Linked DNA regions of Homo sapiens: all the other regions are linked to region 1. Evidence: fine-mapped QTL for protein levels in blood plasma. A gene starts in region 1. Each other region holds a variant in brackets. All regions are shown on one strand. Distances are between the middles of the regions.

What was found. PIP is the posterior inclusion probability: the model's chance that the variant is causal. Protein levels are from antibody-based Olink assays in UK Biobank. Linkage for the fine-mapping came from a reference panel and not from the study's own genotypes, which makes the PIPs less certain.
Region 2: its variant is fine-mapped to the plasma level of the DKK1 protein (UK Biobank, PIP above 0.99).
Region 3: its variant is fine-mapped to the plasma level of the DKK1 protein (UK Biobank, PIP above 0.99).

The regions. Positions count from the first base shown.
Region 1 is chr10:52,310,745-52,318,931 of GRCh38, reverse strand. DKK1 (dickkopf Wnt signaling pathway inhibitor 1) reads right to left here and starts at 4,651. Exons shown (of 4, transcript NM_012242.4): 1 at 4,255-4,651; 2 at 3,847-4,009; 3 at 2,497-2,637; 4 at 1,275-2,378. The coding sequence starts at 4,497. The coding sequence ends at 2,125. It overlaps PRKG1-AS1 (PRKG1 antisense RNA 1), which reads left to right and starts at 4,804. Exons shown (of 6, transcript NR_038277.1): 1 at 4,804-5,298; 2 at 5,447-5,534. RefSeq lists an enhancer at 1-668.
Region 2 is chr10:52,447,126-52,455,312 of GRCh38, reverse strand. LNCAROD (lncRNA activating regulator of DKK1) reads left to right here. Exons shown (of 4, transcript NR_120641.1): 3 at 564-727; 4 at 3,796-4,436. Among named protein-coding and RNA genes, the nearest start is that of LNCAROD, 19 kb to the left of the region's middle. RefSeq lists an enhancer at 2,120-2,988. The variant C/T (reference allele first, on the strand shown) is at 4,155.
Region 3 is chr10:52,649,236-52,657,422 of GRCh38, reverse strand. All of the region lies in intron 1 of LOC105378305 (a long non-coding RNA gene), which reads left to right. Among named protein-coding and RNA genes, the nearest start is that of MBL2, 120 kb to the left of the region's middle. The variant T/G (reference allele first, on the strand shown) is at 4,690.

The DNA of each region.
Region 1 (8,187 bases):
AAATACATTGTTTAAAAGTCACACAGCAACAACAACAGACATTTTAAACAATCATTACCCAAATTGTTCTAGATTCCTTAAATAATCCTCTTTTGAATTTGTATTTTATCTGATTTCCATCGTCTAGCCTCTATTACTAGCTAATAAAAACCTACAATTTTCTTGGTATTTTCCACCTTTATAAATATGAAGAATTCTTTTTAACAGAAATCCCTTCCTAATTTCTCAGCTGGATAGGAAGAAGAGGCATCCCTCTGGTTGGTTTTGTATTCTTCCACACATCTCTCATCTGGAGATGAGAAGCAAGAAAGGCTGTCACTAGGGTCAATGTACTGAGGTCCGTTCCTGTAGAAAGGAAGGGATCCAATAACCAAAGCCCTTTAAAAGTTTGCTTCTTTCCCCACTTAAGCAGAAGGCTCTTCTTTCTTCTTTTTGGAGAAAAAGTTTCCTGTTTCCTTTCCTTTATTGTGCTTTATTGGACATGGCAGGCCTTAGAATTGGCCTTTCTGGCACTTCAGAAAACAAGCGCATGTAGAAAAAGAAAGTTTCTCCTGGGTGAGGAAGCTGAGACTTCCAGACAAAAGGAATGTAACAGCAGACATCCTGCCAGTTCCTCTTTCAGTGAAGAACCAACCAAAGCTTGTGTCCCACTGGTTGAGACCCTTGAAATTGAACCACTTCCAGAAACACAAAAACAACAAACGGTCTAGTACATCTGCGTTATTTAAGGAAATATTTGCACGATTGATCAGTCACTACTATCCTTTGCAGGCCTGAAATGCAGCATTTTGTGGTTTGGGTGCAGACTTTAGAATACTACAGAAAAAGTATAAATTGGGAAGTTTGCTTTCCCTTTTCCTCAGTATAAACAATATGAAATCTGGCAAGTACAAATGCAAAGAAAATTTAGATTTTATTCCTGTGGGTTTTCTTTAAAATACTGTATCCGTATCCTCATTCCAATCAATAGATTTCAGGTTAAACAAAACTTGAAATATGAAACTCACCTAGCAAGAGAAAAAAAGAGTGGAATGAGGAAGGATTTGTGATTTTTAATTAATAATTATTTTAAAACCAAAATAATTAGAACAAGTCTGCTTTGCATGCAGTAGTACTCAAGATACTGCAAATTATTTTGTTTGGTACAAAATCTGCATGTATTTGTTAACTGTATTTATGGGCACACATCCTGTTCCTGCCAATCACCAAGTACTTTGGAGTATTATTTTTGTGGATGATTTTCTTCCTTGTCCGAAAAATATTGACCATTTAGGTAGGTATTATTAATTTATTGGAAACTATTTTTGAAAGTAGTAATGTAAGATTCACTCTCATTCTGCCATGATCATTTGAGTTTATCAATGCAGAACACGTCTTTCTTTAAAGTTATTCTAGAGCTGATCAATATTGTCTTATATTTAGACACTGTCTTTTCTCTGATCATCTTTAAACATATCACACTTCCGTTCTTGTAGAACACACACATACGTACACACACACAAACCTCTAAGATCACAATCCCAAAATGTATGTCTACTTATAACATTTCATGATATTAAATGTTAAATTTTATTTCAAAAACTATCACAGCCTAAAGGGAAATATAATTTAAGCATTAAGATAGTACATTTCAGAAAATAAGCTAGTATTTTCATGTTACATTTTAGGTACCTATCATTTGTCATTCCAAGAGATCCTTGCGTTCTAGACTCTAGAATTAAATGGGGTAAAGGGTTATGCTTTTAAGAACTATAAGCTGAAATGATTTACTTCAGTTCAATATAGAATATTTGTCAGTCAAGATAACAATCAATGTGTACAAAAATTTACATAACAAGAGGAAAAATAGGCAGTGCAGCACCTTTAGAAAAATAATTAAAAGTTTCATTGCATTTACAGGTAAGTGCCACACTGAGAATTTACAATACAGTAATTTACTGCAATCACAGGGGAGTTCCATAAAGAAACAAAGCTCTTACACTCCAGGTTTTTGGAAGGTGTTATTGGAATGCTTAACTGAAACCACAGAACTTGTATATCCTTAGGATTGAGTTGATGAAGGTCATAAAAGGTTTTCATAGCATCTATTATATAAAAGGAGTTCACTGCATTTGGATAGCTGGTTTAGTGTCTCTGACAAGTGTGAAGCCTAGAAGAATTACTGGCTTGATGGTGATCTTTCTGTATCCGGCAAGACAGACCTTCTCCACAGTAACAACGCTGGAATATTTCTAGTCCATGAGAGCCTTTTCTCCTATGCTTGGTACACACTTGACCTTCTTTCAGGACAGGTTTACAGATCTTGGACCAGAAGTGTCTAGCACAACACAATCCTGAGGCACAGTCTGATGACCGGAGACAAACAGAACCTTCTTGTCCTACGAAGGAGAAGACAGTAGGAAAAAAGTACATAGTTACTGTTAAACCTGCATCGTTTCACTAAAATAATTCAAAAGACACTTCTGATGTGCTAAGAATGAGTCTTAACATCCTTACCTTTGGTGTGATACATTTTTGAAGACAAGGTGGTTCTTCTGGAATACCCATCCAAGGTGCTATGATCATTACCAAAGCTTTCAGTGATGGTTTCCTCAATTTCTCCTCGGAAATGATTTTGATCAGAAGACACACATATTCCTAAGGAAGCAGGAAATAGTGATTAACTTCAGGGTTGTAATGCATTACTGCTAACAGCTGTGACAGTGGCAGTCTGTTATGCCAGCATCAACTTGAGATACTTCATTGCAGTGACATCATTTTAAACACAAGCCAAACTTCCTCTTTACTGTTAATGCAAAACTCTCCAGATGGACAGAAGCACCAATGTGTATACTGTATACAGTCAGTCATAGGTAATATCCCCAGTATAGCCATTTAAAATACTTTCCCACCAACTGTGGTAGGGGCAAGTGAGATTTCTGCCCATTTTAATATTACCTTTGGGGTAAGAAAAAGAAACTCAGTCACTTTAAAAATGTTCTTAAAAATAACTTCTCTGCCCCTGGTGCTATATGGGTCCTACCAGACTAAGTTAAGCAAATGCAATTCCAGCTGCCTGGAACATTGCAATCTCACCGGCCAGTTACTTTACTGTGTAATTTCTATATTACAGAGATTTACTTAGTTCATCCTGGAGTACTGCTGGGTCCTAAGGAGGGTCGTCGCCCTGTTAGCTTATTTCTGGAGACCTCTTTAGCTGTCTAAATCCACCTTTTGAAAAATTAAAAGTTAGTGGATCTGTGGTTGGGGGGAGGAGTACTTATATTAAGGCAGCAGAGGGTAGAGGGAGGGGGAAGGATGGAGAAGTCAAGTTGTGAGGGTACCAAGATCTCTCTTAAAAATGGCCAATGCAGATAAATCAGTCCTCTGGCTGACAACAGTTTCAGCAAAAATCAGAAGGCGAGGCCAGTCTGGCAAAACTGTGAGAATCACAATAAGAAAAATGAAAAGGACAGCTGAACGCCAAAGCTGGTTTCTTTGATATCTGTATGATCCCATCGTCCTCCTCATCATCCCCCTTCTCAATTGACCTCAAGGTTCTCCCCAGACAAATTTTTATGGAAGAGTCCACTACGAGGTGAACCGTTGTATTGAATCATTGAGGGACACGGAGGAAGATAAGGACCTCAGAGACCTCCCAACTTCTCTCTTCTTCCCGATTAAACACTTGCAATGAAGATACTTCAGCGGAATCCTGCATGCTGAACACCCATTTGCAGGTGGCGCCGCAGTGTTCTCAGGGCGGAGATTTCTCCCCCCACCCCCCCCAACCCCCCGCCCCCGCCCAATTCATAGACGCTCAAAGGCTGGACAGTTTTAGTGTGAAAGGGAGCTTTCAGGACTCACCATTTTTGCAGTAATTCCCGGGGCAGCACATAGCGTGACGCATGCAGCGTTTTCGGCGCTTCCTGCAGGCGAGACAGATTTGCACGCCTGCGTCCCCTCCGCGGGTGGGACTAGCGCAGTACTCATCAGTGCCGCACTCCTCGTCCTCTGCGCACGGGTACGGCTGTGGGAAGGGTTCGGGGAGAGGGTGAGGCACCCAGACGTCCAGGTACCCGCCCTCTTGGACCCGGGCGCTGATCACAGTCCTTATCTGTCCACCTCTCCAAAACCTGTTACTGCCCACTGCTCCCAAATGCAGGGTTACCAAATGCTCCCTGAACCGCACACATTCAGCACGTTCTACTCCCTCGTCTCCAGATAGGACCCTTTCAAGGTCAGAGCATCCTCTGAGTGCCCGACCCCTCTCACCTGGTAGTTGTCAATGGTCTGGTACTTATTCCCGCCCGGGTACAGGATTCCCGGCGCGGCGCTGACTGCAGAGCCTGGGTGCCCCGCAGCGCCGCCCAGCGGTGGGGGCAGGTTCTTGATAGCGTTGGAATTGAGAACCGAGTTCAAGGTGGCGCTCACTCCCAGCAGAGGGTGGCCGCCGAGAGCCGCCGCTACCATCGCGACAAAGACCCGGGTAGCTCCCGCTGCGCCCAGAGCCATCATCTCAGAAGGACTCAAGAGGGAGAAAGAAAGAGAAAATGACCGTCACTTTGCAAGCCTGGGTCCCCACGAAACCGTGCCGGTTCGGCTGCAGAGTCAGGGTCCGGGAGCCCCCTGCGGTCCCAGAGTCCTGACTGCAGGGAGCACAGAGCTCTGCGCCGCCACCGCCACCGCGGCTGCCTTTATACCGCGGGCCCGGAGCATTCCGGCCCCTTGGGAGGGAGACAACAAAGCCGGGATGGGATTTCAAAGCGCTGGGAGGGGCTGGGAGGGGGTGTGTTTGTGTACATGAAGGGGGGCCTTTGACACTCTTCACCCCGCCCCTCCCTTGCTTAGTCGCTCGGCTGGCCCGGCTCACCTTCGGGGTGAAGGCTACCAGCGAGCGTTATAGCAGACGACTTTAATAAATGCAGGCGGCAGCAGGAACTCTGGGAACTTGGGTGCCCTTGCCTGGCAGTAAGGGTTGAATTATCCGGATCTGAAATACTTTACAGAGCCGAGGGGTGATAGGCTCTGCAAAAGCACTTTTTGCCCCTCTCCTTTATGCCAATACTCGCTGACTGTGCACACAAGTCATATTCAGTATTAAATACAAACCGGTCTGTAATTCAATGGCTCTAGCAAGACGCCTCTGAGAGGGCCAGGTGGCGGGTGCAAGTTGCTCATTAACCCTTTAGAGTCGCAGTTTGCAGATCTGAGTTAGATCCCCGGCTTTGAGGTCCTTCAGTTGCCCTCCTCCCCCACCTCCCCCCGCCACTGCGAGAAAAATGTGCAAAGAGAAGGAAATTTGCACATCAAACGAGGGTAAGAAGGAAGAAGAGCTAATTCTCTTTTGATGGGAAGTTTAGAGAGGGAGGCGAGAGACTGGCGTTTAGAAATTAGATCAGGGGTGGAGGGAAGAGGGAAATGACCATCCGATAATCAAACCATTTAATGTTGTTCTTTGAATCAGGGCAATCGCGGCGGTAGATGAACTTGATTAGGCAGACGCGTGAGATCAAAGTGGCCGGGACCAAAGCGGACAGGGTCCAACGTGCCAGGTCAGTCGCCTTTCCCCGGTTCTCCCTTCTCAGTGGTGGGCTAATGTGGAGAAATAAGAAACCCTTAGGGCTTAGCGCCTGACTTCCTCATTAGTATATCACATCGCAACGCTTCCGAATGCAGGGTTTGCTCCCAAGTCTTACCTTGCACGGGACCACGCAATACCCTTTCTAGGGAGAAAAGAAACAACCTTGAGGAGAAGAAGAGCTGAAAGTGAATTAGAAAGTGAATTTGACGTCATTGAAATTGGTGTGTGGATATAATAAAGTAAGGCTGGTGTATAAGAATGATGTCATGCTTATAAATGGGAAATGATCTATTTAATTCAACAAAAACTTATTGGAAGCCTAGAGCCCTGGCATTGGGCTGCCCTCTGGGTTGTTACCTTATTTTTATTTTTTAAATTTTTTGGTGAGATGGGTGGTGGGGGGAGGGGCACAGTGAATACAAATATTTATGAGACACAGCTCTCATTTTAAATAATAAAGTTCTCTTTATTCTAATTACAGTAATAATAAAAGATGTAGTAACAATAAAATTATAGCAATAAATATAAAAGCATACATAATTCTTTTAAAAACAGGTTGATATTATAAGTGTCAGAAAATAAGCAACTGTTTTGTGAGTTTGGAAAAGGGAGAGATGATTGAATAATCACTATTGAATTAAAAAAGAGTAAGATATATTTATTTTGTCTTCCTCTAAGCTGTATAGATTTAGGCTGTCTATAATGACTCCACATGCTGACCTACTATAGTCAGAACTGGGGCCACCACCAAGTAAAGCCAGTGACAATCTTAAAGTAAAAAAATCCTAAAGTTTACTGGGAGAAGGAGTAATTAAAACACAATTTACTATGGTCTGTGTTCTAGTTCCTTCAGTTTCAAAGGTAATATTAAGAAGATCATCTAAACAATTCTTGAATGGTACCCTAGTTATATTAGTGTCCTTCCCATCCCAAATTCCATCTGTCCAGGAAATTATCCTGTCAGGAATCAATGCGTTAAGCACCTTCAGTGTACTAGGAAATCTGCAAGCTGTGTTAAGTTTGAATGACTTTGAAACGTAGAGAAAAATCCGCCTGCCAATCAGAAGGTTGAAAATGTTTCTTTTTAGTCCTATTAACCTGTTTAAATATTTTGAATCTAGAAATATATTTGTGCCACACTAAAGGCCAATCTCTTGCCTTTTTTTCTGAAGAGATAGTATATGATTAATACATTTAATGAACTTGGTTCATTAAAAGCTTGGCTTCACAAAAAAAATCCATTGCCTGGGGCAAAAGAAGAGAAAGTGGAACAATTTAATCAACAAAAGGAAAATTCTGTTATAACAAAGAAGCTTGTTGCATAAATTCAACCTTGATCTCTGAACACATATCATTTGTCTATTATGTTTCAATATTCACTGAGTCTGGACAGAATCTGTGGTATTGAGCTAGGAGAGCTAAACCAAGCATAGAGTTTCAAGAATGGGCTAGCTTCTACCTCCTTCCTCAGCTTTCACATTGCTCCTGAAGTTGTCATGAGTTTAAAACTAATAATGAGTTGGTCAATATCTGAGTTCCTACTTTGTGCTAAGCATTATACATGATATTGTGTGATAAAAGATGAGTTCACATATAATCTACCTTCAAATCATTTAGTGGGCAGAGGAGAGGTAACCTCACAAATTATTCAGGGGAGAAATTACATGGGTGGTCCTCAGAGAGGGCTAAGTACATAGCAAATCAAACCTTTGTTCCAAATGAGGAAATTTATTTTTTCAGTACTTTTTCTCCATTTGAAAATCCTTTCCAGGATGTGGTTTGTTCATTGGCAACAAGAGTGCAAGGTAGATAAAGAGGTATAGTAAAACTCATTGTTCCATCAGCAGCCAGTTAATATTCGGTGAGTATCCATTATTGGGAGCATATCTCACAATATGAAAGGCAGGCTTCTTGTCCTCAGCTTTCAGTCTGTGACTAGTTGGGGAAATACAACATACTTACATGGGGCTGGGGGTAAAAATTTTTCCAACATCGATTATATTTTGGCAGATACTAGGTCATGGAGAGCAAGAAAAATGTGCAGGAACTGTGACCAACATGTCTTAGGAAGGAGAGAGGGTTCTGGTGATTGTCTGAGTCTCTCTTACAGCTGGGTGACAGAGGAGGTGGGAGCCAGAGTAGATGAATTTAGTTTATTAAACTGAGTTTATTTAGTCCTGTAGGGAACCCTGCCTCCTATTCAGTCTGGTATAAATATGATCATAATTAATGTAACAAATTTAATATTTTGTATTATATTTTTGAATAGGTGAAATATGCTTATCAGCGTGGAATTGAACCTCATAACTCGGGAACAGCATGCTAACACATGTCTTCTTTATATTTTAAGTGCTGGATGCCATGCATAGAATATTTCTCAACCTTTTCATCCATGAGGGAGACAGACAAATATACTCCAAAACACTCCATGCTATTCACCAACTATTTTTCCATCTCTATTATTTGTGACTGCTGATTTTTTTTATTTTATATATTTTTATATATTTTTTGAGACAGGATCTCATTCTGTCGCTCAGGCTGGAGCACAGTGGTGCAATCGTGGTTAACTGCAGCCTTGACCTCCCAGGCTCAAGCGGTTCTTCCACCTCACCCCCAAGTAGCTG
Region 2 (8,187 bases), 140 kb before region 1:
TGCAGGAACAGCAAGAAGCAGAGTGAGAGAGGTGGGGAGAATTCAAGATGATGTTAGAGAGATGACAGAGTCTAGGTTAGGGAGGGCCTGAGTCCTTGTAGACTCTGAGTACGGTGCTGAGCAGGGAAGAGACAGGCTCTGGCTTAGGGTTTAGAAGGAACACAGGCTACTGCGATGAGGATTGTCTGAAGGGGAACAAAGGCCAAGGTGGGGAGACCACTTAGAACTCTACTGCTCTACTTTAGGTGAAATGTTAGAACTGGGTGAGCCGAAAACATGCTCAGCATCTGTGAGGAGGGGGCACAGAGGGAGCAAGGATGGATCCAGGGTTTTTAGTCTGATCAACTGAAAGTCTGGAACAGCCATTACTTAAAATAAGGAAGTCTAAGGGAAGAAGAGATTTAGGGGAGAATATCACGAAACTTGGTTTTAGGATGGGTGCATTCGAGATGCAGATTGCACATCCAAGCCAAGATGCCAAGTAAGCAGTTGGATGTTTAAATGTGGATTTGAAAGGAGAGGTAGAGGCTGGAAATATAATTTTGGTAGTCATTCTGTTACAGATGTTGTTTGAAGCCGTGAGACTGAGTGAGATCATGGAGGAAGTGAATGTAAATAGAAAAGGGAAGAAGTCTGAAGACGGAGCCCTGAGACACTCCATTGTAAACTGGAAGATGAGGAAGAGCCAGCAAAGGAGACTGAGAAGGGGCAGCCAGTGAAGATGGAGGTAACCAGGAGAGTGTGGTGTCTGAAAGCCAAGCAGCAAAGGGTTTCCATGAGGAAGGAGAAATTAACAAGGTCAAATGCTGCATATGGGTTAAGCAAAACTAGAATACCTTCTAAATAGAGTATGTTCTAAAATTATTACCAGTACTTGAAATCACCTACAAATTGATCTCCTTTATGTCTATGCCTTCATCTCCTAATATCCCCTCCCTTCCTCAGTATAGCCTCTCCCCCATTTTCCTCTCCAGCTTTCATCTGCTACCTCACTCTCTCCCTCGTTCACTATCCCTTCTCTAGACCAGCCCTTTGTTTTTCCAGCATGTCAATATATTGTCCAGCCCTTTGTTTTTCCAGCATGTCAATATATTGTCCTATCTGTTCTTCCCGCTGCCTAAATGTTCCTTTTACTTCATGATTACTTCCTATCATTACAGTTTTTTTTCATGACCACTCAGTCTACAGTACCAATTTTATTAATGTTACTTCCACCTCCTTCCACTCACTCTTTATCCCACCACTTTGTTCTTTCCCTTTATGTAATTTTCAGCATCACAACATTTTCAGTTCATTGTTTTCCATCCCACATAAAAACAAGGATCTAGACTGTCTTGTTCTGTGCACTGTGTCGGGCTAGAACAAGGAGTGCTATAACATTCATTCAATGAATATTTACTGAATAAGCTAATTAATCTATATTTCAAAATTTTAACAAAGTTGTATGTAAAGCATACCCAAACACTGGTAAATCATTCCAAATTGAGATGTACAGAGGAAGAAATCTGAGAGGAATTTTTATTTGATGATGCAGGAAAGTATTTCTTTCAAGTGTTTTTCAATTTACATGTTAATTGAAAAACATTTCCCAATCCATTTGAGCATTTGGCAATCCCTCTGAGACACAGTTCATCTACCTTATTTCCACAGCGCCTCAAATACAACCTTGCATTTGCCTAAGATGGTGCTGTATTATAACTTCATGTTACCTTTCATAGTTCCAGGAATCTGTAAAAGTAATAGTATCATCTTTATTCAGGTCTAGTTTATAGTGGACACACCTTGACTGTTTATTGAAAAGATGTTTAAATAAATGAATATTGAAATATTTAATTAAGAGTAGCTGCTGAGGAACAGAAAACCAAACACCGCATGTTCTCACTTACAAGTGGGAACTTAACGATGAGAACACATGGACACATCGGGGGCAACAACACACACGGGGGCCTGTGGCGGGTGGGAGGGAGAACACCAGGAAGAACAGCCAATGGGTGCCGGGCTTAATACCTGGTGATGGGTTGATCTGTGCAGCAAACTACCATGGCACACGTTTCCCTATGTAACAAACTTGCACATCCTGCACAGGTACCCTGGAACTTAAAAGAAAAGTTGGTCAAAAAAAAAAAAAGTAGCTACTGAACAGTCAAGTAAAATTTTCTTATTCATTCATTTCCTACCGTCCTTCTCAAGAGAGTTGTCTTCTAAGAGGTCCAAATGAACACAACTTATCACTGGAAGCTCTTTTTAAAAAATCGCTCTAATGAAATTCAGGGGATGAGTAGAAATGGGGTAGGGGCAGGCTTTGTGTTTGATAATTTGGTGTGCTCTTTCATCTTCCCTCTGCAGTCTTACGCTCATTGTTTGTTGCTGCTAAAGCAGTAAATGTTGTTTGTCTTCATTGCAAAACCAAGGATAGAAAACTTTGAAGTGTTTTCTGTTGCTTAATGTCACCTACTGTTCCTGTCAGCAAACTGAAATAAACCTGATGGACTGAGGTGTCTGGTCTAATTCCTTTATTGACACATAGTCCTGTCTTCAAACACCAGTGTAAATGAATAAGTACTGAGATAGTAATGTGTCAGTAATAGGCTGCCAGATAAATGCCATTGTTTACGTACTGATCCCTGCTTCCTAAGGCCCAAACAGCTCAAAAATCTTACAAATTAGCACCTCGCTGAGATCAAAGAATTGTCTTTTCTTTCTGCAATTACCTACTTGGAGAGCGGTGCAAGCAGATGAGACGAGTTTAAGCTGTCTCTCTCTAGCCCAAATCTTTCTTTTAAAGAGAACAAATGGTGGAATTATACACTGTTTCAGGAAAAGGCAGTTAAGAATAAGAGATTTTACCTTATTTTGCCATGTAAGAACAAGGGGATTTTGTATTTTAATTTTTATGTTAATCCACCAATCAATCCCCATTATAATTATTTTACTGAAAATTCAGTGGAAAGAGCCATGTTCATCCTTAACAACCATCTTTTGGGATCAGATTTAGCTGCAAATTACAAAAATAAAAATAGCTTTGAATTCAGTGACACCATAGTACTCACACTTCAAGCAGAAAGTATGAGAAAAATAAATGCTTTCTGAAGGAGTAAAAATTTAGACAACACATCTTCTAATTTCATTTTTGGCATATCTTAAACAGAAAAGTGCACCATTAGTCTCTCTTAATTTAAAAAAAAAAAGGCATAATTTTATGACTTTCCTTGCTTACCAAGTTCTTTGCCCTGAAGCACATTCCAGTTCCATTAGCCTGTGTCCAAAATGGCATTGTTTTATTTGAAGATATTGAGAAATGAGAGGATAGAAGGATGTAACTTGAGTTTATACTATTTAGTAATTGTCTTTCATATTAGTCATACAATCTACAAACAAGAAACCTAGTGTTCAAAACTTATTATGGCTTAGGGTAATGTTGGCTTCTTTATAAGAAAGACAAAATCCTTTCTTGGTGGCAGGCTTTATCTTTTATGCAAATGAATAAAGTCTGCTTTCAAATTCTAGTGTTAGACTTTGTGTTAGTCAAAGCCTTGACTCCTATGGATAAGTGAGTGGTTTAAAGAAATAAAAATTGACCTGAAAAGTAATTATCTGCAATAACTTGGAATCCTTTTTCCCTGTATATGTTTTACTTCACTTATTCACATCCATGTTTTTTAAAGAGAGTATTAAATGCCTTATGCCAAAGAGTTCACGTAAATAAATGTGAACTTAAGGCAAATTTTAATATAATTTGTCTCATTTTTCTAAAACTGTTTCTTACATTAAACATTCTTGTATCTTTGGAATCAGCCAGGGCTAGAGTAAGAGCCCCTTCTGGGATGCTGTGACCCCCAAGTTTGAAGACTGCTGATAACCCCAATCTACGAAGACTAGCTATGGAACTTCCTACACTGAGACAACTCCAGTGGAACTCTGATAATTATCCTAAAATAAGGAGGCTTCTTCAGTAGCCCTCGAAATATGTTCAAATACATGATTACATTTATGTCCTTAATATTGCTATTAGTTTCTGATGTTAATGTAAAAGTTGGGGAAAAAGTGGAAAAGTTAAAGCAGTGCAGGTTAATTCAATGCCAGAGTAACTTCTCAGAGGGTGTATATTCAGTGTGAACAATTTTCAACAGAGAAATGTCAACTTCTGGCCACAA[C/T]GGCAACCAGTAAAATGACTATTTTTACTGTCTTATCTATTAATGAAGAGGAGATTGCATAATATAGATGAAGGAGCATAGTATTTGCAGGTGGAACGCCTAGCAGGGCTTGAGTCTCAACTCTGCTGCTTTTACTCTAATTGACCGAGACAAGTCATTTAAACTAATAGAGCTTCAATTTTCTCATATCTAATGTAACATAACAATTCACAGCCTTTTACTTTGTAGTTATCGTGAAGATCTAATCGCAGTGAAATATATTTATATATCTGTCTGCTGATAGAACTTTTGTCATAGAGGCTAGTCCATTTTATGTCAACGGGGCTTAAATAAGATCTGTGCCAGCAACTGAATTACACTAATGAGTGAGTAATTACAAAAGAAGCCTGCTTTATCAATCTATATAAAGAAGAAAGTTACTGAGTATGGAGGGGAGATTCTCCTTTCATATTGGCACTCATTCTTACTTTCCCTGAAATAGAGATTATAGTAGTCTACCAGCAATTTTCAAACTTCAATTCTGGCCTGGAAATTGGACAGAAGGGGTCCAAGGACAATGAACCGAAAGTGCCAGTGAATGTCTCAGTGCAGACTTGGAGTCATAGTGGTTAATTTGCAAAATTAACTCCCTATTCAGACTTCAGGCAGTTACATGTCAACCAACATCAACTTCGACCCTTAATCTTCAGCCTCAACCTAGTAATAATATCTCTGAGGTGAATAAGCTATGAAGTGGACATTTCCACCTTCCTTTATTTTATTTTATTTATTTTTTTGAGATGGAGTCTTGCTGTGTTCCCCAGGATGGAGTGCAGTGGCACAATCTGGGCTCACTGTAACCTCTGCCTCCTGGGTACAAGAGATTCTCCTGCCTCAGCCTCCCGAGTAGCTGGGACTAGAGGTGTGTGCCACCACGCCTGGCTAATTTTTTGTATTTTTAGTAGAGACAGTGTTTCACAGTGTTAGCCAGGCTTGTCTCTATCTCCTGACCTCTTGATCTGCCCGCCTCGGCCTCCCAAAGTGCTGGGATTACAGGCATGAGCCACCACACCTGGCCCCACCTTGCTTTTTTATTAAGACTGCTAATAATAAGTTACTGTGCTTTCTTATTATATCCCCTTTTGGTCTCTGTTAACAAAAAATACAGTTGTATGTAAATTTTAGTATATGACAATGTTCATCTCACAATACGTACAGTGATAATAGTGGAAGAGGAAGGAAGGTAAAACTTTTGCTGTGATTCCATAAATGAGCAACGTGGGACACCCTTGTATGAGTCCAGTGCTTACACAAGCGCCTGAACACAGAGCTGCCAGGCTGGGTGCATGTGTCAAACTCTGCCAAAGCCCTGAAAGCACCAGTTGTGAAAAGCTGGAAAAAGGTCTTGGCAACCAAAATTCATGTTGATTTTTGTCACCTTTTTGAGCAAATATTCTTTGCAGATCAATAGTCCATTGGTTTAATTTTACAAATGTTTTCTTTTGAATTTTCTTTCCTCCCAATGTAGTTTCAAAAAACTAGTCCATTTAAAAAATGATCCTTTTTATGGAGTGAAAGAATACAATACTCAGAGTGGTTCCATGCTCAAGTTCCAAGATGCAAATTTTTTTATGCAAGTCTCATATTCAATTAATAGCCCCGAGATTATGAAAGATCCATTACCTTCTCAATTGCAGATTCAGGTATTGCCAACACAACACAAAGCAGCATTAAAATTCATGTCATTCTATAATGGTATTTTCCAAAATGTACTTTTTCCAAACACTTTCCAAAATGTACTTTTTCAGGTTGCTTTAAAAATTTTAATATAAAATTTAACAATTAAAAATGTATTTTATAGTCAGAATAGCAGGAACTCTTTGTAAGTACTGAGGGATTATCACTAAATAAAATGTATAGCAAGTGTGCTATAGCAGTATTCTTCTGTAAGAGATATCCAGAGTTATTGACCTGAGAGAAGGAGGAGAAATGCATGTATGAATGCAAAGAATCCTGTTTTTCTTCAGCAGGGTACTGAAAACTAATTCTTCTTCATGAGGGAAGGCAAACAACCCTCTCTCTGGTCTCTTTTCTACTATGATTCATTTTTTGGTCTAAGTTTTTTCCCAAACCAAGAGTAGACTCCCTCCTGAGTCTCTATTGACTTACCTGGCTGCCAACAAAGGAAGGCTACTAGTTTCTTGGAATTCATATAATTATATTTCTGTGGGCACTCATAAAGAGCCATCAGCTCTGTCCTTGCACACCCCACTTCTAGACTTGCCTCCAGCCGGGGGTGGTAATAACTGAAAAGAAAACATTTCTTGACCTACTCCAGTACCTCATAAATCGAAATGTATCCCTTCAACTAACACTCAAATTCCATCTTATTAATATAACTGCCAAACTAAATTAAGTCCAATTTTACTTTTTTGTTTACCTCCTATACAATGGAATCATATTTTTTCATATTAAAATTTTAGCAAATAATATGTCACCTACCATTTGCACCTCCACACGATGCTAGAGAATTAAGTTGGGAAAGTCAGACCTCCAATGCTCTTGATACAAATAAGTCCTGACCAAAGATTTAACCAGAATGTTCCCTCAGTGCTGCTAAATAAATATTTATTTATGTATGTATTTATGTAATACTTCTCCTTTGAAAAGAGAACTTGAGGTAGTCTCCAGAAATATACACATACCAGTGGAAGAAAAACAGACCAATCTGTGGAAATTAAAGCAAGAAGAAAGATAAGCTGGAAGAAAATATATATTGAAGCAGTAATGTTGGTGCCTGCCATACTGGTCTTAGCGTTCTGATAGGTTCCTGCATGTTGGTGGTAATTTTGAAACAGACTATCCTAATAATCCAGGCAAATATAGTTTGAAAGCACAATTAGTCATGAGACTACCCATGTTGCTGGCCAAAATCACACTGCTGTGAGAGACAGCACAGTTGTTCCTGTTCCTGAGATGCATGAGGAATTTTTCTCATGGTTCCTTATGAAGTAGACACTGAGTGATTGGTAGCTATTAGTGGGAAGCAGGATATCTGGGAAGAAGAGGGAAAAATGACAGCATTGCACAAATTTGAGGGAATGGATTCTTTGCCTTTATCATATTTAATGTAAGCTCCTAGTGATTAATGAGTTTGAAATGCCTGGTCATCTACATATGTGTGCCTGATTCCAGGAGAGATGGAGTCTGACAGTTTGTATAGCAGCTAAGTTCATGGGAATGGAGTCTGCTGCCTAAGGCCCTGAGCAGCCTTTATTGCAAATTCTGTAGAGTAACCCGCTGTGTAGCAAACAGTCAGGATCACTTATTATTATTTACAGACTTTCCAAAGCTCTCATCAAATAGGAGCCCCACACTGTCAATTTCTGGAAATATCAATGCTTAATGCTTCCCCATTCACAAAGTATGGGGAAGGTGTTGTCAATCTGGGGATAGAGGGGAGACTTGTGCCACGTTTTAGAGGATGGCACTTTGGAACTTAGGGATACAGAAGTCTAATGTGAGGACAGCCATTTGGCGGTCACCTGTCTTATTCACAAGAGAGGAATTAACTTCATAGCATCCCTATTGTTTGAAAAGGGGACTTACTGAGTGCCATCTATGTGCAAGCTAATAGGTAAACAGTAATATGTTTTCCAAAAGCAGATGGAAATTTTGAGAGTCCCAAAGCTTATATAATTAAGGGCAAAGAGAAGGTTTAAGAAATTTATAAATATAAAACTATGTATAAGACTGCGCATGTAGGCCATGCAGAGGAGGTAAAGTGCAAGCTTTGGTAACTTCACAGAAAATCTATCTATGATGGTGTTCTCCTATAATCCTCAGAGTAACCAATGATCTGAGTGAAACTCTCTCCATGTGACACAGGACAAAACTGAGATCCAATTTTTGTAGTTGCCAAATTTTGCAAATAAAAACAATGGACTTTAAGTTAAATTTGAATTTCTAATATACAACAAAAAAATTTTAATATAAATATGTTCTCAATTTTTTTATATTAAAAAATCATCTATTGGGATCTGGAATTCAAATT
Region 3 (8,187 bases), 340 kb before region 1:
TCACTTCCCACAAGTTGAACCCCAAGAGTAACAGTCAAGTACAAATCCTATACGTATGGTTTTGTTAGCAGAGCACGCATCTAGTAAAAATCCAATGGACAAACTCATGCTTAAGCATGAATGTAGAGGGCAAATTTGGCAATGCGTGTGAGAAAGGCTTGAAATTTTGCTTGCAATTTGATCCAGAATTCCCAGCTTTCAAAATAATTTTAAGGAAGTATGCAAACTTTGTGTGCAAGAACATTTGATGTATAGATTGTCATGAGACGAAAAACAATTAATTAAATGTTTAATAACAAGATATGGTTAAGTAATTTGTAATACATCTACCTAATGTAATAAAATACCATTATGGAAAACATGTTGCTAAGAATGTACAAGAACAATAACATGGTAAATGGTTCATGATGTATTATGTCTATAAATAAAAGTCCATAGAAAAAAGGCAGAATAAATACATTCTAGAACATGATTATTTCAGGAGATAATTGGCTATTTTAATTTTTACACTTTTATTTATTTTTTATTTTCTAAATTTCAACTTTTGTTATGAAAGAAAAGTTTATTTTTTATTTTTTAATGTAAAAATTTGTTCTCAATCCTCAGAGTCCCAAAAGGAATAATTAAGAATCCCTAGAATCTATGCCAATAACTAGAAACTGGACTGAACAGGGAAGGTATTGAAGATTTCTTTCTACCCTACAGCTTTTCCCCCAACACAGGTTTTGTTTTAGGTATTACTGTCATGAAATACAATACATGATGCTCTTCAGCCAAAAGCATATTATTTATTCCAGAAGTTCCTTAAAACCCTAGGAACCCGAATATATTTTTACTTGTGAGCTGGGATGGATACTATAAAAAACAAACAAACAACAACAACCAAAAAAACCTTTTAAGATATGCTTGGCTTTTGTTCTTTCAACCTTGTACCCTAGAGTAACATTATCCAGTAGAACTTTCGGTATTGATGGAAATGTTCTATATTTGCACTGTACTTTATGGTAGTCACTAATACATCTGGCTAGCGAGACTGAGAAACAAAATTTCTCATTTTATTTAATTAAATGTCAATAGCCACATGTGACTGGTGGCTACTCATTGGGCAGTGTTTGGGAACAGTTATCTGGATGTTTCCTGTTCTGAACTCCACCCTGGACCTGTCCAGTATTTCCAAGCAATTCTCTACAAAACACTTATCCTCTCATTTATTCATTCACGTATTAACTACTATAACAATTTTACTAAGTATTGCATGCTAGTCTTGGTATTAAGATCTGTGTTACTGGACTCAGTCGTCAACAAGACAGCCACACTCCCTGTCCTCAGAGTTCACATAGTTTAGCAGAAATAAAGATGGTTTTCTTGCCTCAAATTGTATCTTCTGTGTTTTGTCTCACATACTACTGAGAAAGAAAAAGATAGATTCTGGTCCATGAAGTCATTTTTTGCTATGCTGAAACTGTATATTCACAAATATATTCAGTTCTGCCTCGGATCCCATCAAAGGTCCTTCTTTCTCCATTGGGTGCTTTGAGTCCTTCCAGGATCCCTCCCTAAGACTGAAGTGTAGGTGTTTTCCTACTGGGTTTCTCTTCCTGGGAAAACAGACACTAGTTAATTCTTCAGAGCTCAAAGCCTAATTCATCTGAGAAAATGGGAACTGGAAGCACTGTATAAATCAAGACTTTTCTCTCTGCCTCTGGGAAATGAAAGTGCTTTCTCTACTAGCTAAAGTTCACGGAATAAAACCTAATATGTCATCAAATTCAACTTTTATTGATCCTCTAGGATGTCTAAATTATTGAACTAGGTATTACGGGTCATCAAAGACCCAAAAGACTTGGTCCCTGTCTTCTACAAAACCCAAAATTGAATAGAACCCAAATAAAAGTTACCACATGACTTCACTTTCTTAAAAAACGTAATTCCACCAGTCTTCCTAAAGCATTTGAATGGAAAAAAAAAGCGATCAAAACTTGTGTACAGGCCCATGTTTGGTTCATCTTTCCATCTCAAACAAATGTAAAGGGAGGATCTCAACACAGTATTCAAAATTATATTCAGCCTGGTAACAAAGATAAAACTACAGTTGTTGTGTAAAGGAGATTAAAATTCAGTTGGAAACATGTAGTTCGTGTGCTACATACATGCAAAAGTATTAATGAAAAATCTCAGTGAACTAGAGTTCTTACCAACAGAGAGGCCCACCTATTAGTCTCTAAGGGTCCTTGAAATGTTACCCAAGTGGCTCAGGATTCTGCACTCCATTTTGAACAAAGGTCACAGTGGTGTTAGAAAGTCTGAGGGCAAACCTGCAATTCCCACTTACCAGTTTTGTAAGTGTGAGCAAATTATTGAGAGCCTCTAAGTTGCACTTTTCTTACCTATAAAATGAAGGCAGAATCCACCTTAGTTGAATAATGTAAAAATTAAAGATAATATATGAGCAGGGCCTAGCACTATGCTTGCTTGTAATAGTTATTCAATAAATGCTAGATGGATTAGAGGATCGTTTATTGAGGAGATATTTATTGCCAAAGTCAAACAAATAGGCAAATAGACAAACAATTTATATTATAGCTCAGAAGGTGGGTCTTCCCCAACACAAGGCAATGTAAGAAGCACCTACACTGTGTGAAGAACTAGATAGACCACAGGTGGCCTTCTCAATCATGATAGAGAACAAAGAAATGACTCTCTCCAGAAAGAAGACAATCTGCAATAAAATCTTAAATAGTCCCAATAACATTACAAGCAATTTGGACTTCTCTGTATGTCCAAATGCTCCTCTATATGTCCATGCTTTCATGATGTCTCTGAATATTTATCTTCCCTCTGGAGAAAAGACAACTCCAAATGACTTTATGCTGAGCTTGAAGCATCTGTGGTCAAATGGTGAACTGGCATCATTATTTCCATTTTACAGATAAACTTAAGAGAGTACTGAGAGATAAACCGAGAGTGTTGAAAGTTCAAGGGCCCTGCCACTATCTTACAGGAGCAAAACTAAAGAGAGAGTACCAAGAGATAAACTGAGAGGGTGCTGAGGGTCCAAGTGCCCTGCCAGTATTTCCCAGAAGTGAGGCTGGAAATGAAACGAAGTCTACACTGCTTTCTGCTAGGATGTGCTAGGTAAATGCTCTCCCTAACCTTAAATAGCATTTGTCTCTGTTATTAGCAGCTATTAGTGAAGACACTAACCTTAACCACATTTCCCTTGTCATTGTATTTGTTCATTTACCAAGAAATGATGTGATGGTATTATTATTATTATTATTATTATTATTATTATTATTATATTTTTTCTTTGCAACAAAGTTTTGCTCTTGTTGCCCAGGATGGAGTGCAATGGCGTGATCTCGGCTCACTGCAACTTCTGCCTCCTAGGTTCAAGTGATTCTCCTGCCTCAGCTTCCCAAGTAGCTGGGATTACAGGCACCTGCCACCACACCTGGCTAATTTTTGTATTTTTTTAGTAGAGACGGGATTTCACCATGTTGACCAGGCTGGTCTTGAACTCCAGACCTCAGGTGATCTACCCAAATTGGCCTCCCAAAGTGCTGGGATTACAGGCATAAGCCACCACACCAGCCGATGTGATGTTATTATTTCAGGCTCACATCAACGGTATTAGCACTGGATGTCACTGTTGTTCCATGCAAACAGAACACAAGTGTGCCTCTTCCCTCGTGAATTTCAGAAATGACCCAGTTACTTAGGGAACAGCTCATCATGTACTTTGGCAGAACCACACAGTACTCCCCACCCAGCCTGGCATTGGCATTGCTATTTTCAGATTCTAAATCTAATCTATTCCAAGAGCAAGAGTCCAGGGAAAAGGCCATTAAATGTCTGAGGCACAGAGTCTATACAACATCTGACACTGAAATTACTAGAAAGGTCTATTTGCGAGCAAAAATTTCTGCCCTTGCTATATATTTTATTTTTGAAAAAACCTTAATACTTTAAATGCAAATATGAATCGAATGAATTTCATCATTATCCCATGAAGAGTTCCAGAAGGATTTCTTTGGTGAATGAAACACAAATATTAACTATTGCTTCTTCTCCCACTCACTTCATAATCATGTAACAGCCAGTTATCAAGGCTACAAAAGGTCTGAGTCTGACCTTCTAACCTGCTCTTGGACATAAGCAAGCACAGCAGGCAATGTATTTCAAGGCAATTACAGGCATAACTCGAGTATTTATAGGATACAACATTGTAATAGAACTATCTTTTTGGTATTTCCGAGGTAACACTTAAATCCTGCAACAGTGGTGGCCCATCAGTGGTGGGAAAAGACCAGTTCCTCCTGAGGGTGGAAAATAATCTTGTAGTTCAAGTTAGTGAAGGATGGGCATTTCTTCTTCCATTATATTCAAAGTGGAATGAGTGTGCTGCAGCTTTTTTTTTTTTTTTTTTCATGATTTCCTCATGATAATGTTGCGGTTACTTTAGCAGGGGGTGGAAAACTGATAAGTGTAATTGCTGTAATCACAGGATGTATAGGATGTAAATATTTGCAGGGCAATTAAAAACTATTTGCCTCTTTAGCTTCTTAAAATAAGAGGTACATCTGAGCAGCAAACAAGTGGAGAGTTTAAGAAAACAAGCAGAAAAGATTTTTAAGTGGCAAGAATATGAGATGATTTATCGAGCATTCATTTTGTGGTTTGGTCAGA[T/G]ACGAACGTTGGGGGAAAAGAGCAAAATATTGTGGATCAGGAAAATTGTGTCATCAAATAACTAAAAATAAATCTCAGAAGAACACCCCAGGGTTATAAATGATCACAGTGTGTGGCATTGTCAATTATCCTCTCAAGCTGGCACATTGTTTAGGAGGATGTCTAACTGCCAAGTTGTTATTGTAACAAGCCAACGGGCTTGCCTCATTCATTAAATACATGGAGGATGGTAGTCAAAATAAACCATGCCAGTTGACCACCATCCAAAGTGGCAGTTTTTCTTTGAGAATAAGGTTTTCTTTTTCACTCTTGCCTGATTCATATGTAAATACTTCCTATTTCTCCTAATGTTTCAAGAAACATTTTGATTGTATTTGACTCATATCTGCTAAATTTCTGTACATATTATTATCTTTACTACCAGTAGGGATAGTGAAAAAAGTAAATTCTACATTGTGTTGATGAGAGAGTTTGTATAAGGTAGGAAAGAAGGGGGTTGAACAGCATACAGATACTTCTACAGCCAGGTTAACATTTACACACGCCAATTAAGTTGTACAAAAATAGTAATTTGTTATGTTCTATAATTGACCTTATTTTGCCCTCCATCATGCTGATTAAAAAAAAAAAAATCCCAAACAAACAACCCTAAAACCTGATGAACAGTAACTCTGTCTCTTGTGGTTTTAAAGGCTCTCAGGTTAAAACACTCTTTTTTTTTTTTTGAGACAGAGTCTCAACTGTGTCACCCAGGCTGGAGTGCAGTGGCACGATCTCAGCTCACTGCAACCTCCACTTCCCAGGTTCAAGCAATTCTCCTGCCTCAGCCTTCTGAGTAGCTGGGACTACAGGCATGCACCACCATGCCTGGGTAGTATTTTTTTTTTTTTGTATTTTTAGGAGAGATGGGGTTTCACCATGTTGGCCAGGCTGGTCTTGAATTCCTGACCTCGTGATTCGCCCACCTCGGCCTCCCAAAGTGCTGGGATTACAGGCGTGAGCCACCGTGCCCGGACAAAACACTCTTAAGGGTAAACAATCATTTTGGATTTCTTACCTCTTCAATGCTTTTAGGATGGTATCTAGGGACATGCAATCTCGTGAGAAGAAGTAAAAGACAGCTATGATCCACAATTTGTCCTCTGCCAGCCCTGCTGACTCTGACTGATGAATAAAAGGGAGGTCGTGGCATTGTTCTCTCTCCTTGCTGCATGTGTTTGCTGTAGTATCTGTGGATTCTAAAGCTAAGGTCTGTGCTGTCTGGGTAGACAGAGCTGAGTGACTGCTTCTATGAAAGTCAGCAAACTCCTCATGCTAGTGAGGCTCTGAACTTTGATTCTTTCTGGCAGCCTTGATTCTCTGAGACTTATTGCCATTTTCTTGGGGCTGTTGACCTTGCAGTGGTCTCCACACCTCGAGCACATGATAACCCCTTGGCAGTTATGCCTAATTTTATTTAGTTATTCTGTCTTTTCATTCTCGACTCACATAATTCTTCCCTCACATGGTCATGCTGGAATATCTGGGCCTTTTCCATATCAGGTGCAGACTGTAGACCAGGGGTTTTCTGTCCCAAGGCTACACATCTGGACCCTTTCTCTGCCTGTTACTGATCCAGCACTATGCGCCATGTTGCACGATGCAGGAAGCAGAGCAGAAGCTTCGCTGTTCTCTGATTTCCCCTTGCACAATACAGAATCCAGTTCAGAGGCTATCATATGCCTCTTCTCTCTAAACCTCACCCAAAGGACCTTGGGCAGCTTGCTCATCCTCACCTAAATCACCTGGTTTTTACAGCCCCTCATTTTCTAATCTCAGAAGTTGAAGAGTTTTCTATTTCTATTTTCTATCCCAAGGAAACACCATCTCTTTTATCTTTCCTCACAGAGTACCATAGCAAAGCTCTAAGCCTTAAATTCTAAGTTCGATCCTTGATGTAAAAAGGAAGCTTTAGGATTTAAAAAATCTATTTTTCTTAAAAAAAAAGTAAAATCATGACTTGGTAGATATTATCTTGCTCTGGATAAAAAAAAAATTGAATCAAATTTTTCAGACCGAAAATTGACTTCATTCTCTATCTTCTTACAAGTAATTACAGGCATTTGAGTCTCTGGATTAAGGATTACGAGGTAACAAAAAATGGAGAAAATCAGTTTGGTGTCTTAAAAATATATCATCTCACCTAAACTGCTTATTCAAAAACCCTCAACAGTCATCCAGTGCTTTTTGAATCTGTACAAAGCTACGTGATGCTAAAGGCCTCCACCCCTCCCAGGCCTAGGATTTCAGGTGTCCCTCTCACTTCTGTGTAAGAGAAAAAGAGATTTAATGACTCTAAGCTAAAAAACTCACAGCTAATGAAGAGAAATAGTCAAGAGGCAGATTTTGACTAATCTAGCAGAGTCTCATTTCAGTCAAAGTTAGATTCTGAAATTAGTACTTAAGGCAAACGCTGCATTTATAAAAGTTATTCTTGAAAATTCTTTAAGTTGCTCATAAAATAATTTATTTTTTACTCTATGAAAAGCTCCAAATATAGTATCTTTCAGTTAGTCTGATAACCAATTTTTACTCCAGAAATAGGGGAAATGCTGTATGAAAAAGATGTATCTTCAAACTCTGCAATCATATCCAGTGATGCTCACATTATAAGGGGCACATAAACAAGGGAATAGAAAGAGAGAAAGTAATTATAGGATAAATTTGCTGTTACTAAAGAGTTATAATATTCTCTTTCTTGGAATTCTAACATAAAATGATTCATAAAATGCCTGGGCACATTCAGGATTGGATGGATATATTTTCTAGTTGGTGGATTTCTATTGTTTCCACATGTATACTAATTAAAACAATTTCAAACTTAATTTCTTAAATAACATTTCAGTCTTGCAGAGCATGCTTTTTAACATTAAACTTTGTCTCCCTCTGCATGCTAATCTTCAAAAACACTTTCTAAATCAGTCCTTGTCTGATAAATATGTCTATTTTGTTTAGCTTTTGGACTCATGTTCTACAATAATTTTGATTTTTTTCTGAGCCACAAATTGGAAGCAAAGAAAGCATGAACCCACTGGGTTTTCTTTCCTTTTTGTAAGTTTATACAAAGATGAGGCAACATGTCTTTCAGTAAGTAGATAGTAACTTCTTAATGTTTGCAGAACCAGATGAACGAAATGATAACCTCTCTGTGGGTTAGAATGTCTGATTCCCTCTAGGAGATCTTAAAGAAAGCCAATTAGCATTAGCAGATGTGTGTGCAATGGAGAAGGTAAAAGAAAATGAGGGCAGTAGTAGCTTTTTGGGACTTGGATGGAAAAAAGATAAGATTTCTGGGGAAGGCAGATGTTGGGTTTAAGGCTTTCTGTAGAAGGTCATTAGAAAACTGTGAGATGAAGGGACAGTTACAAATTTAAGAAAGATGTGTCTTATAGGACTAATACAGATACCATATACCAGATATTAGGTAAACAATACTTAAGGACTGTAAGAAACAAGAAA